3 separate regions of the Homo sapiens genome follow, and all the other regions are linked to region 2. Evidence: fine-mapped expression QTL. A gene starts in region 2. Each other region holds a variant in brackets. All regions are shown on one strand. Distances are from middle to middle. Region 1 overlaps TNS1 (tensin 1). Region 2 holds the start of TNS1 (tensin 1). Region 3 overlaps TNS1 (tensin 1).

What was found.
Region 1: its variant is fine-mapped to the expression of TNS1 in whole blood (TOPMed, PIP above 0.99).
Region 3: its variant is fine-mapped to the expression of TNS1 in whole blood (INTERVAL, PIP 0.99).

Annotation. Positions count from the first base shown.
Region 1 is chr2:217,838,449-217,841,108 of GRCh38, forward strand. The region is part of intron 19 of TNS1 (tensin 1); the gene reads right to left. Among named protein-coding and RNA genes, the nearest start is that of SNORA115, 6.0 kb to the left of the region's middle. The variant A/G (reference allele first, on the strand shown) is at 1,309.
Region 2 is chr2:218,001,417-218,004,076 of GRCh38, forward strand. It overlaps TNS1 (tensin 1), which reads right to left and starts at 1,579. Exons shown (of 33, transcript NM_001387777.1): 1 at 1,424-1,579. The coding sequence starts at 1,456. RefSeq lists enhancers at 23-523, 524-1,024.
Region 3 is chr2:217,814,285-217,816,944 of GRCh38, forward strand. TNS1 (tensin 1) reads right to left here. Exons shown (of 33, transcript NM_001387777.1): 25 at 628-714. Among named protein-coding and RNA genes, the nearest start is that of SNORA115, 18 kb to the right of the region's middle. RefSeq lists an enhancer at 1-292. The variant G/A (reference allele first, on the strand shown) is at 1,563.

The DNA.
Region 1 (2,660 bases), 160 kb before region 2:
TCTCCATCACCACCAGAATGGCACGTGGGAGCATGTTCTGACCAGAGGCAGGGAAATGGAGGGAATGACCTCCAAAGAGCTAAGGAGCTGCAGGGCAGTGCCTCCCTCTGCGGAAGGGTAAGACCCTGCATTCCACTCCCACGGGGCCAGCCCCTCCCCTGCAGAGCACCAATGGCCCCATGGCACCAATGGCCAGTCAGGGCCACTCACATTCTTTGAACACAGTGTCCCACTGTTGTCCCCCTTGGCAAGCCCAGATCCGCCTGGAGTGCCTGGAGAGACATGTTCCCTCTCTCTTGTCTTGCTCTATGGGAGGGGAGACTGGCGTGGCAGAGGGGAGAGAAGAGAGCCCCATTGTTCCTTAGCCAAGCTAGGGTGTCTGGACACAAGCTGACAACCAGTGTCATGGAGAGAACACCCTCTCTCACGTCCCAGAGTCTGACTGATAATAAAAATAGGCCTGCTCTCCCCACCTCCCTCCCTCCCGCCACCACCCTCCACCCCAGGACTTTCTCAGTCTTTGGCCCCATTCTCTCTCTCAGGGCCTCTGTCTCCTACACCCACCTAGGCAGAGGCAGGTGCCTTGCACAGACACACATGTGCATGCTTGCATGTACATACACACACACACACACACAGCCTAACAGAAATGGCAGCAGGACACTGGGATGATGGGGGTACATAGTGGGGCCACTGGGTCACCCTCAGAACCTCTAGGGCCAGCCCCTACCCCAGCAGGAGGCCGTGTGGCCAGAGGAAGAAAGGAAGAGAAGCTCCCAGGAGGCTGAGAAGGCTGGGGTACCCTTATGACAACAAAGTATCTTTAGGACCCTAACACCCTATGTTCAAGGAGCCCTGGGCGTTCTCTAAGGGCTGCTTCATACACGGGCATCAGGCCTTCCCCACAGCCCTGCCAGGATGAGCAGTTATCCCAGCCCCAGGGTTCCACACAGGCCCCCAGACCTGAGGAGCAGGGCACCAGAGCAGCCCCCTTCCCAGGGAGGCGTCACTCTTCTGCCAGGACAGTGCTGTGCTGGACAACAGCTCACTCCAAGGCTCCCCTAGCATGAGCCAGACTGGAGGCAATTAATCCCCTTCATCTGACACACACACGCACACACACTCACACGCACACTCGCACACCCTGCAATTCTGGGAGCTGTAGCCCTGACACAGACCGATACATGTACTTTGGCAAAGCACTGCTGCCCACCACCCCTGGATCACGTGACGAGTACCCTGGTGTCAGGCTTCATGATGTGCCTCCTCTGCACCCCCCAGACTGGCCACTGCCACCCTCACAGACCC[A/G]GCTCTTCTTTCCAGTCTTCCGATTTCCAAAAGACTGGATTCCTCAGGTCCAGGTAGCAGGGCTGGGTGTCCGACAGCATGCCTGGGGCTCCAGAAGCGAGGGGATCCGGGAGGCCACCTGCTGGGCCAGGGTGCCAGAAAGCCACACGGCGATCACACTAGCAGCCCTAGGGCAAGCCATGCCAGCTCCCCTTGAGGCAGGCCCACCATCCCAGAACCTGCCCCTACCCAGGCCCAGCTGAACACTACACTCCCCACCACTGGGCTGAGAGAAGGGCAGAGGAAGAAGAAAGGAGGGAGGGGCGGTTGAAGGGAGCAGTCTGCTAGAGCCATCTCCTGATCATCCCTGGACTGGGAGAAGAAGGGACCATGGAGGCACCAGATAACTGACATTGGGAATCAACAGTTCCCATTTCCCCTAGGCCTTTTCCTGGAGCTGCTCAGGGGCATGGTGTAGGGCAGGCCTGAGCATGGCATCTTCCCTGACCCAGCCTCCAGTGTCAGAGGAGCAGGGGAAGGAAGAGGTGATTCCCTGGCCAGGGCTCAACGCCTAAGGGCCTGCGTGTCCCAGAGGCCAGGGGTAGATGTTAGTGGACGGCATCATTCTCAAATGAATTACTGTGACCCCAGTGAAGCATCCACAAGGTCCAGGGCATGTCAAACCACCGTGCAAAATACACAACAGGACAGGACTATCATCTGTCCACTTCTCAGACTGGGAAATTGAGCTCTAAACAGTTAAGAAACTTGCCCAAGGTCACAGAGGTGGTCTCAGGCAGGGCCAGGACCCCAACCCAGGGCTTCTGACTCTTGGCCATGGGATCAGAGATTAGGAGTGGGACCAGAGGGGGTACGCTGTCCCCAGGGTGTGCCATGCTCTAGAGTGGACAGAGCAGCAGGGGCTGGGGCACCACTCTGTGTTGTGTCTGGTGGCCCCATGCAAAGCTCAGCCTGGCTCCTGCCGAGACCTAGCCCTGCAGCCCAGGCAGTCTGGCCAGGGTGGCCGGAGTGCTGGACTGTCCAGAGCCCTCCTGAGCACCCTCATTGCAAAGGCCTGCATCTCCTCAGGGGACCCTGAATGTTAGTCTAGTTATTCCAGGCATTGTTCCCAGCAGGCAAGGCCAAGGCTAGCATGAGGCCCATGTTCATGCAGAAGTGAGCTCTGGCTCATGCAGACAGGAGGGAGAGAGGGCTGGAGAGAGGAGGGATGGAGAAGTAAGTGAGGAGACAGAAGAGAGGATAGTGAGAAATGGGGAAGGAGAAGGAGAAACAGATGGAAACCAGAGAACAACAGAAGAGGGAGAGGAAAAGACAGAGGAGAGAAGGAAGAAGGTGGGAAAGATTTGGAAGGA
Region 2 (2,660 bases):
GAAGGGATCTATAGAGCCCTCTCTCCAGTCACAGCAGCTCGTCACCCCTGGAGGTCTACCTGCCATCCTTCTTGTGTCACCCCTGGACGTCTACCTGCCATCCTTCTTGCTGCAGAGCTCCCTCCTGCCTACCTCTGTCCTCAGCACAGAGACGAACCTGGCCAAGGCTCCCATTTCCCAGATGTCAACACCAGCCCAGTAAACCACAAATGCATCCTGTGTGCAGGCCTCCCCAGTCACTCTCAATCTATTAATCCAATCCATCCCAGCACCCCAGCCCAACATGCCACCCAAACCGCCTCATTCCAGGCCCCCTCCCCCACCCTTTCTTTCTTTGCCCAGAGGACACCTGGCTGCCCGAGTTTGTGTTCCCACAACTGCCCCCAGCATGGGCTTGCCTGGGCCAAGAGGGCCCTCCCGAGGACTGGCCAGAACAAGGAAAGGGACAGGAAAGGCCACATCTGGATCACAGCCCTGAAGCCCCCTCCCCCAAACCAGCCATCACTCTCTCAGAGCCCAACAGTAACCTCAGCCAGGGACGACTTCCTCACCCTCCTGACCCCATGCATGCCTTTGCCTGGCCAAGACAGCCCCACAGGAGCCCCTCTGAGGAAGGGGTCCTCTCCTCCTCTGACCCCCAGCCCTTCTGCAGCAGGCAGCCCTCTCCCATCCCCCTTTACCCAGGAGCCTCAGCCCAGGTCTGGCCTTAAGACTTTTAACCTTCACCACGTGGCCCCCAGGCCTCTCTGCTGGCCCCCCTGGCATCCCCATCCTGAAACCCACCTCCCTGAACCTGGAGCCAAGAGAGAAAGGGGGAAGAGCGGGCCATGGCTCCCTCCTCCAGGATGGAGAGGTCTTGGTAGCAGGGGAGGGCTGTGGAGGAAGGGATGGCAGTGGGTGGAAGCTGAAACTGGGTGTAGAAGGAATAAAAGGGATGGACTCTGAGAATTCTCCCACAGCCCAGCTCTTCCAGACTTAATATTTTGGACTACTATTCTTTGCTCCCCAGCCCCACCACTGCCTCCTCCTCAAGATCTTGGGCTCAGCAACTGAGGGGGGGCGGTGAAGAATTTTCACCCCATTGTAGGATGCAAGTCGGGAGGAAAGGCTCTAAAGAGAAGCAAACTTCTCTGTGGCCTCCTTCCACTTACAGCTCTGGGACTCCATTGGGGGGTGGGGGGGTGGGGCAGGGGATGTACTGACCCGGGACCCTGGGCCTGGGCCCTGTTGGTGGGGAAAGTCTTCCGGCTGAGGGTTGCTCAAGTCAGTCTGTCCTTCTGTAGGTCAGAGACAGAAAGGCCCCTCCTTCAAGACTGACACCCCCCGACCCCGGGCTCTCAGCAAAAGGATAAGGTGGCAGGGGCCGGTGGGGGGCGGGGGGTTTGAGGAAGAGTAACGTCGCAGCTAAAGCAGCCAGACCTACCCAGAGCATGCAGGACAGACAGATCCACGTCATCTTTGCTGGGTCCCGTCACTGAGGCACGCCCAGGGCCTGTGAAGAGCCCCTGAAGCTAGAGTCCCCGCGGCGCTGGCAGAAGGGCTCTCTGAGTCCGCGGCTGCTCCGGCTCCGCCAGCATCTGCTGGGCCTCTCGCCCTGCTGCCTCCAGCTCACCCTCCCTCCTCCTCCTCCTCCCCCCACTCCACCCCTCGTCCCAGCCTCCTCTCTCCTCCCTCCTCCCAGGCTCCACCGGTGGCCTTGAGGGTCAGGAACCCTGCTTTGCAGGGGGTGTAAAGGGGACAGGGAAAAGGGAAAGCTACCAGAGGCAGGGCCCCCCCAGGCCGTGCCCCCCACCCCCGGACACACAACCCCTGTGTGCCACCAAGGCTCCTCAGTCTTCTGATCTGGTGCTGGTAGGCCTGGAGTCCTCCCTCCTCACTGCAGACCCCCGCCCCTGGCAAACCAGCCTGGGGGCCTTCACTCCTGGAACCCTCCAGACCACTGATGGATGAACAGACAGCCCCAGGCCCACACAATCAGCACACTCAGGGTGCCTTGGCCCCTCCCCTTCTCTGAGTACCCGTGCCTGCCTTCCTGGCCTCCTCGGAACACACATGCATTTGCACACACAGACTGGGACAGACTCTGGTGCCCACGCGCCAAGCTCAGAGCCCAGGACAGGCCTTAACACAGAAGAAATAGGGCCCGAGACTGGGGAAGAATGGCCCTGCCCCCAGGCTGTGGGTTTCATTCCAATTTTTTTCCTATTTCTTTTTTTTTCCCCCTTCTTTCTTTCTTTCCTGCAAACATCTGTCCCAGCCTTTCCTGCCCTTCTGAAAGGGAGCCCCGCTCCAGGCTCCCGCGAGAGTGTGTTTTTCTTGACTGTACCCGGGGCCAACATTTGGTTTGCATTTCCCCACTTCCTCCCCCTCCTCCCCTCTCCCCCTCCCTGGGCCCAGTTCTCCCCTCCCACCATTCCACAGGCCTATTTCTTCCCCTCAGTGTCCCCTGCCCACCAGCCCTCCCCTCCCCTCGCCCCCACCTCTGCCCAGGGACAATTGTTGGGGGTCTAGAGGGTGGAAAGGAGGCTGGGTCAAAACCCAAAAGTATTCCCACGGAGCACTAAGGGGGAATCCAGCAAAGTCTGCCCCAGGCCTTCATTGTCTGGAACCACCACGTTCCCCTCCAAAAAAAACCCTTCCTCTTTGAGCTCTGGCCTTGG
Region 3 (2,660 bases), 190 kb before region 2:
GGATTATAGGTGTGCACCACCACACCTGGCTGGCAAACTTACTCTGTAAATGGCCGGAGAGTAAATATTTCAGGCTTCGCAGGCCATGCAGCCTCTGCTACAACTACTCCACTCTGCCACTGCAGCAGGACAGCAGCACAGGGAGGATGCAAGCCAGCAGGTGTGGGGGCGCCCCAGTAAAACTTCATTTACAAAAGCAGGCAGCATCCAGATTTGACCCATGGGCTGCCGTTGCTGACCCCTGTCCCACACCCAGCCTTCCCCTGAGAATCATTCCCCTATTCCCAACTTTGTTCTCTCTCCCTGTAAAATGCAAAAACCTCCCACATCAGGCAGACAGAGAGCTAAGGTTTCATATTATCTTAGCAGACCTTTTACTTTGCCCAGGAAAACCAAGGCTTTGCTGTTTTTAAGAACCCTTCCAAGAGGTGTCTACAACTACTGCTTCTGTGTTCCCACACTTCACTGCAGGAAGTGCTTCCTACTGTCCAGCTTCAACCCCAGCCCCCTCTGTGATGACCCCCTGCTACAAAGAGGACTGAATTTGCCTCTGTTCCTTGCCCAGGGAAGACACAGCAGGCCTCAGCCAGCTATGGCCTCTGATGCACCACAGAGCCCAGCACTCACCCTGCTCCCTGGAGATCTCAGGCTTGTACCAATACTTAGAAGTGTCCTGGACAAACTTCACTTTAGCCCGCGTCTCCGGGCTGTTGTCTAAAGCAGGAGAAGGGAAGAAAGTGTTATGGGTTAAATTGTGTTCACCCAAAACATACATCAAAGTCCTGGCCCCCAGTGCTTGTGAATTTGACCTTATTTGGAAATAGGGTCTTTGCAGATGTAGACAAATTAAGATGAGGTCACACAGGATTAGGGTGAGCCTTAATCCAGTATGCCTGTATGCCTGGTGTCCTTACAAGGAGAGGAGACAGAGATACACACAGGGGAGAGCACCATGGAAGGTGCAGGCAGAGACTGGGGTGATGCGTCTACATGCCAAGGGACACCAAGGATGCTGGCAGCCACAAGAAACTGGGAGAGAGGCCTGGGACAGATTCTCCCCTAGAACATCAGGAAGGAGCCAACCTTGCCAACACCTTGATTTTGGACTTCTAGCCTCCAGAACTGTGAGAGAACATATTTCTGTCATTTATAAGCCACTAAGCACATGGTCCTTTGTTATGGCAGCCCCAGGAAACTGACATCAAAAGCTGATGTCCTCGAACACCATGCGAACACAGTGGAAGGGACCTTCGGCCTCCTCATCCATCCCCTATCCCCTGCCCGCCATCTGGGTGGCTGAGCCACCTCCTGGTGGAGGGCCTGGCACTGCATTCCCACAGAGCCCACTGAAAGCCTTCCTCCACCCCGTGTCCCCCTTTCCCTAGAAGACTGTGACTAAAGCCTTCCTACAGCTTTTCTCCCATGGCCTAAAACACTTGCTTCTAGAACCTTTCTCCACAGGTTCAGTTTCTCAACTTCAGCATACCCACCATGAAGATGAGGGCAGAAAGATCCATTTCTTCCCCCTTTTCCCCAGGCCTCTCCTCACTTTCCACAGGGAA[G/A]GCCTATGTTCTGCATCACATAGAACAAAAAAAAAATCACTTCTCTTTGGATCAAACAGGTGATGGCTGGCCTAGAATCTAGAGGCCATCTACTGCATGTCAGGCACCCCACTTCTCAGGCAGACAGCACCCCCACACACACCCATGCCCAGACTCTGCAGACCTTGGGAATTTGTCATAGAACATTAGATTCTGGAGGGAGCTCAGACAGGACACAGTCCAACTGCCTAATTTTACATAAAAGGAGGAATTCAGGGATGAGAAGTGACTTGCCCAAGTCACACAGATGGTGACCTTGGTAAGAGGCCCTAGCAGTCAGTTTAGGACCAGCTAAACTGTATCTTCCTGTCTAAGCATCAGGATGTGCGGCCCTCACTCTCAACCTCTTCCTTCAGCTTTTGGCACCAAAGAAAACACAAAAAGGGAGGGAGAACAGAAAAAGATGAGGATTCCACATTTTTCCTCTCCTGTCTTCAGAGACAGAAGTTGGCATGAAAGACACTGCAAAGTTAAGAGAGCAGATCAGGAGACACAAGTTGTGTCTCCAGTGCTTAGTCAATTTCAACCTATGATTTACACTCCCTTATGCTTCTGGGATCTGTCTCCGGGCGAGTGTGAGGGGAGAGGTCAGCTCCCTTTCCTGGCAGCCGTGTGCTAAGGAAGGTCTCTGGGTTAGGCAGCTGGGCCATGCAACTGCTGCAGGCTGCCTTTCTCTGTCTGAAGCCCCAGGCCCCACTGCTGCCGTGGCCTGTTTAACGAGCTGTCAGAGGCGGCTGCAGTCCCACGTGCCTTCCTGTGTTGACTCCAAAGGCTATTTTAAGCAGGGAAGATGGTGGGAAACAGGAAGTGTCCCAGCTACTAGAAGTTTTGCATCCTTCAAGGAGAGGGGCTGGGAACCAGATGTCCCCGGTGGGCGGCAGGAAACAGGCAGTGCAGGGTCATTCTAGGTGTCCTGGCTTGGCAGGCTCAGGGCAGGACCTGAGAGTGACGCCGGGAGAATCTAGGGAGCTGGGGCCCATCTGAGGCTGCCCAAAACATTCTAAATCTGCCTCAAACATCCAGGGCCACTGTGCACACAGTCAAGTTCAAAGTTGGCCT